2 linked regions of the Homo sapiens genome follow. The protein of the gene in region 2 purifies or fractionates together with the protein of the main gene of each other region. This does not show direct contact. Each region holds a gene or a part of one and is shown on either strand. Other genes may lie near its edges.

The links.
Region 1: the proteins of CHCHD6 (region 2) and ERLIN1 fractionate together in Homo sapiens (co-fractionation; one large-scale study listed by BioGRID). This does not show direct contact.

Annotation. Positions count from the first base shown.
Region 1 is NC_000010.11:100,152,312-100,155,029, reverse strand, and holds part of ERLIN1 (erlin-1), read left to right. Parts: intron 1-90; coding exon 91-170; intron 171-2,677; coding exon 2,678-2,718. UniProt on the Homo sapiens protein: Component of the ERLIN1/ERLIN2 complex which mediates the endoplasmic reticulum-associated degradation (ERAD) of inositol 1,4,5-trisphosphate receptors (IP3Rs).
Region 2 is NC_000003.12:126,952,240-126,955,739, reverse strand, and holds part of CHCHD6 (MICOS complex subunit MIC25), read right to left. Parts: intron 1-3,500. UniProt on the Homo sapiens protein: Component of the MICOS complex, a large protein complex of the mitochondrial inner membrane that plays crucial roles in the maintenance of crista junctions, inner membrane architecture, and formation of contact sites to the outer membrane.

The DNA.
Region 1 (2,718 bases), on a different chromosome or scaffold from region 2:
AATAAGCAGTCACAATATTAAGCAGTGGGGAAAGGGACTCTTAACTAGCTGAGGGAATGGATTGACACCTTTCCTTTGTTTATTTGCTAGATGCTGCATTCCTGGCCCGAGAGAAAGCGAAAGCAGATGCTGAATATTATGCTGCACACAAATATGCCACCTCAAACAAGGTGACTGGCTCCCTGGCCACTTTCCTAATGATGCATTTCGGGGTTTTGCTTTCTCTTTTCAGGAGCTCTGATATGATAGAAGTGATTTTATCCATTGTCAAGAAAGTGTAGTGACCAAGACATCCTCCAGAATTAGTCAGTTAGCAAGAAATATTTCACATTGATTGGGTAGGGACACAGGCCAAATGCCGTAATTCCATTCATTTGTACTGCTATATAAGGCTGAATAATTAATTAAGTTGAAGGTCTTCTGAAATAAGAGTGACAGAAGAGTAAAGTCTATTTAGAATTGCTTTCCAAATAAGGTAGTTTTTTTGGTAGATACTTAGCTTGATTAGAGCAGTATTTCTCATCAAAGGCATTCCTGGCATTTGGGGTTGAGATACTTTTTCATTGTTGAAGACCATCTCATGCATTGTAGGATATTTTGTATCCCTGGCCCTTGTCTACTGAATGTCAGTAGTGGTCACCAGTTGTTTTAACTGCCACACACACATGCATGTATTTCCATATGCCCCTTGTTGAGTACTCCTTGTTTATTGGATTTAAAAAACTATTCCAGTCATGAGGAATTTCATGTGGGATAACTTGAGAAGGCAGGTTGGGTGATATATAGGTGATAATTTGGTGTAAGGACTGGGGTAAGCTGGCTAGACGGTACAGGGCTAGTGAGCAGGGGCTATTTAAGAGGCAGCTAGAACTCCGATAGTATTCTGAGAAGGGAAGGGTATGTCCAAGATTTATAAGGTTATCGTGGAGCAGATTGGAACAGATAAAGGGTTGAGAAAGAGATTACTAAAGTGGATGATGCAGTTTGAAGGATTAGAGTCAAGTTTTAAGATATAGACAGGGCTTTTAATTTAGAAAGGAACAACATAATCCGTATTTAGAAGAAATGATAAGATGATAGAATGAGAGTTGTCAGTACTTTGAAAACCAATATAAATTTTAAAATGAACATAACATTGAAAGACACAGTTCTATAGACACAGAATGGAATTTGGCCAAAAGAAAGGCATGACAGGAAACTCCAGTTGAGGAAACTAGGAGTCCAAATCTAATGGGAGAAGCTCGTCAGGCACAAGTTTCAAGACCTTGCCATTGAGGTCTACCTTATTCAGAAAGGGGCAGTAGTTTTATGCCATTTTGAAAAATGTGACTCAGATACTAACCTATATTAAAAAGGCTTGAGGAAGAAATGTGGTTGTGCACTATGACCAGATTTGATTGGAGTGTTTCGACAGAGGATATGAATCACCTGGAGAAGATAGAGATCCAAAGAGTGAAAGATGTCAAAGTGTAGAAAATAAATGCTGTAGGACTGTGAAGGACAAGATGGACTTTTGCCTGGGGGACAGGCCAGGACTCAAGATAAGGAGAGGATCACAGAGCAGGGTCTGAGGGGCTTTGAAAGGCATATGTTACAGGGAACAGTGGAAATGGGTTTTAATCAAATCCAGATAGATTCTGGTTAGATACATCTTGGCATCCTGATTTAGACAAAACAAAACAGTGTGACAGAGGGAGATCTGGTGGTCGACGAGTTTTAATCAAACCCAGATAGGTTCTGGTTAGATACATCTTGGCATCCTGATTTAAACAAAACACTGTCACATAGATCTGGTGGTCGACAAACATCTGTCTGTCACAAGCAGCTTAAACATCCAGCTTCTGGGGAAAGGCAGAAGGCCAGATCAGGTGACAACTTGAGATTTTATTCTAGTTCTAGAATTTGTTCAAGAAAAGCAGAATCACAGCTAATGATAAGATAATGAGCACCAGCCCTTCCTTTGAAGTTCTGCTCTCATCCACTGACCTGTGTATCTCTCTCAAGAGAATCAACAGAGAACCAGGCATGATGGCTCATTCCTGTAGCCTCCCTGGAGGCTAAGATGAGAGTATCTCTTGAGCCCAGAAGTTTGAGGCTGCAGCAGCGAGCTATAATTGAACCACTGTATTCCAGCCTGGGCAACAGAGTGAGATCTCATCTCCAGAAAAAAAAAAGGCTGGGTGCAGTGGCTCACATCTTTGATTCCGACACTTTGGGAGGCCAAGGTAGGAGGATTGCTTGAGGCCAGGAGTTTGAGACCAGCCTGGCAACATAGACCCCATCTCTACAAAAATAAAAATAATTTTTTTAGAAAAGAGAATCAACAGAAACTCCAGACCAATTCCAGGTTGAATTCAACTAGATGAAATGAAAGTCACTTTAGAAATATTAGTTATTATCATTAGTTATCACAAATTGTTTTCCAACTCCCCCATCCTTTTATTAAAAAGTGAACAGCTTCTCTTGCATTAAGTCAGGAGCTTAATGAAGGAATTTTAAGTCAGGAACGCAGCTGTTAATGTGATAGCCACTCTCCAAAGTGAGAGAGGGTCATTGGCAGTTATTCAGACTTGACTCATGATACTCAGGAGAGCAATAGGTGAAATGTATATAGGGAGAGAGAAGACTGTTGCACCAGAGTATTCTGATGCCTTTGCTCTTGTTTGCTCCCACACAGCACAAGTTGACCCCGGAATATCTGGAGCTCAAAAAGTACCA
Region 2 (3,500 bases):
AACACCATCGCTAACATGAGCAGTGAGTGTCCCATGTTCAGCTAAGGCCAGCAAGACCCATCCCCAGGGCATGAACAAAACGAACAGTCCCTAAATTAAAGACGGGGAGGGATGAGTGTGGGGTGGGGTGCAGCCGCCTGTGACTGCCATGCCACACCAGCGCCAAGGTAAAGGATGTGAAGGGAGAGCACGCCTTCCCCTTCCTGCCAGGGGAGGCCATGGTGGCCCAGCCCTGGCCTGGGTCCTTGAATTCCACCCCATCCTAGCCATTGAGGTCACAATTCTGACTCAAGTCTGCATTGCATGCACCAAGTCTTAAAGGGTCCTCTTATTTCCTGAAGAGGACTGGGTGGGGGGGGTTTTATCTGCATTGACTTCTCGTTCTTACATATGCAGGGCAGATGAGCCCCTGGTGTGCAGTCCTCTGCCCAGCTCCGGAGACCCGCTTCACTGGCCTGCGTCAGCTGCCGCACAGGCGGCTGGGGCAAGAATACAGCTGGGGTGTCTGGGGCAGCCCCTGATTTGTCTCCAGGTGCTTAAGCACGGCTCCACATCTGTATTTAAGAACTGTGACATGGGTGTGTCTAGTTGTGGGCTTTTTAGGCTGCTTCTTCCTTGGGGGACGGCTGGCCTCATGGCATTTCGTCTCAGGCAGGTGTTCTCAGGGACTGCACATACAGCTTTGGTTCTGAGTGTTCTGACACCTGTTTTAGGAGCACTTTCAAGTCACAGGCCAGGCTCTCTGCCTCCATCGCAGAGGCCTCCCCTCCTGTTCTGCTCCCTGAGTCTCCAGCCTTAGAAGGCTGTGCTCTCCCCTCCCCAGGCAGGGTTAAATCTGCAGGGCAGTGGGTGCCTTCAGTGGCACTGCCAGTCTCCCTGGGCTCTCTCTTGTCACCTATACTGCTGTCCCCTCATACCAGCCTCTTGCTGTGTCTTCTGTTCCTCCTGACGGTGCTGGCCCTCTAGAGTCTGAGACCCCAGAGCATGACTTCCATCATAGCCTCTGCTGCACTCCCCTGAAGCAGGACCCCACCCTGCCCTCATGGGGCCCTGGTGAGCCTGGTTCCTGGCTGCACCGTGGAGGCCAGCAGGCACTGAGGGGACCTGTGTGTCATGGTGAGTGGCTCAGGGGAAGCCCCAGGCTTAGTCAGGGCAGAGCTGTCCTAAGCTGTAACTCTGTGAGGCTTACTGATCTATGTGAAAAGAGGTACCATAGACAGGACAGGCGGAGGCTAAGTGGCCCCAGCCTGAGTCATGTGGCTGAGCCTCATGGAGCTGGAGGGCTGACCTGCTGAGCCCTGCCCTCTACAGAGGCACAACAGAGACGCCGACACTTTGCAGAATGGCGATGTGCAGGAAGACACAGCCACATTTGCCCCTCTCCCCATGGTCAGCCTGGCTGTGTCCCCTCCTCACTGGCTTCTCCTACTTTAGTTTCAGGTCCCAGGACAAGGGCCTCTGCATTTTGAGGGCAAACCTCGCAGTGGGCTCCCAGTTTAGGAGAAACTGGGCCATGGCGAAATCTATCCCCTCCTTGCCAGTATCGCCCGTGGGACCATGACAGCCTCTCTCTCCTGGGACTTATCAGAACAATATGAGGAGACAGAATGGAAGGCAAATGTCAACTGGAAGAAATTTCACCCATTTGTCCACAAAAAGGCTCTGAATGGGATAAGACAGGGAGAGCATAGCTCTGGAAATGAAAAGCTTTCTCTGAAGCAAGGCAGGGCTAGGCCTTCGGTGAAGCCATTCACAAAAGTAGGTGCACTCTATCCACCCTGAACCCCTCCCAGCCCTGGCACACCATGACCCTGTTTACAATGCATACAAAACAGCTCCCATGTTCAGAAACATGGTCTTGCAAACAGCTACTCTTCACATGCACAGATAAAGGTATCCAAAGTGTGCCACAAACTTGCCAGGGATAGAAATAAGTCCTGTACCCCTGTGTAAGGACATTTCCTTGGAGAATGAAGATCTAATGGTCCATGTGGCTTCGAAGGGGTTCACACCATTCGCATTGGTGTATGGGGTGTCTGTTTGCACAGGCATCAAAGACAATGCCCAGGAAGTTGGCTCACCTCACTGGCTCTTATGTTCCTCATTGGTACAATGGGAACAGTAACACCGCTTGCCCCATAGAAGAACAGAATTGCATGCTGTGAAGTGCAGCTCTCATAGCAACCTAGCCATCAGTGTGAGAAACCGAGGTGGGGCCAGGGTCTGGAGTGGGGTGAGCTTGCAGAAAGGCTGGGTTACTGGAGGCACTTGGCAGAGAAGAGCTGAGGATATGCTGGGGTGGTGGAACTGCCAACGTAGGGCTTGGAGGGTGGGACCTTACCTTAAAGGGTCCCTCCCTCTACAGCGTAAGCTCTGATATCATTCGAGACCTAGTTCAGACCTCGCCCAGCCTCAGTGGTGCCTCCTCCTCAGGCATGTTAGGGCATTAGCGAGTCTGCATAATCATGGTGTCTCTTCAACAAGGAGCTGGCAGATGTCTGAGGCTGGGACTCTTGGTCTAGTGGAAAGAACACAGGTTCTGGGATCAGACAAACCTGGGGCAAGGCGCTGGCTTTGTCACTTTCCACTGTGTGGTCGGTGCATCAGGTATGGGGGAGGACCCCACCCCACAGAGCTGTTGAGAGGATGGCAGGAGAATGGCAGGTGATGCCCAAGACGGCCCGGTCAGAACATGCTCAGTAACGCAGTGTGGCCCTGAAGGAATCATTGGCATTCAGTAAATAGGACCACAGAAGACCCCACATCCAGCCTCCTGATGGCCCTGAGAATGTGATGGCCACAGACAAGGCACATGGGTCCTGGTCCCTGGCAAGCAGGCCGCATAGGTCTGCCTGACTCCCAGAGCCCCCACCCTGTCGGCTGAGACCACAGACACAGCAGAGTCCAGAGGCCCCATGTGGTTCCTTCCCAACCCCTGTGCCTGAGCGGGCCTCTCCCACTGACCACCTCTCCTGGACCTTCTCCATTCCCCGCACTCCATCCAAAACACATTCATCTCTCAAAATATGGAAAAGCTTTTCAAATCGAAACCCCCTTTTGCCTCCATCTCCGTCCCAGGCCACAGCAGCTTCTCCTTGCTTAGAGAGGTGCTGCCTGGGGCTCCCCCTGCCCCACTCCCCTGGGCCCCATGCCGAGCCTCACTGCTCAGCTGACGGCACCTGCCTGGCCCTCACTGCCTCTCTGGCCACTTACTCTGGTTCTCTTCTGCTGGACCCTGGGCCTCTGCCTGTGTGCGAGCTCCACCTGTGGCCCCTGCCCTTGTCCCCTCAGCACACCAGCATGGTGCCCAGCTCAAGACCTGCTGTCCCCTGCCTGCCATGCAGCCCAGCAGGTGGCCATGGGCCCACATGGACCAGATGTGGCTAGCCCTCATCCCAACATCTCCTCCTCCTGAATTTCAGTTGGGTCGGCAGCACCAACACCCAGCTGGTCCAGCTGCACACCCAGAGCACCCAACTTCTCCAGCCCCCATGCCCACA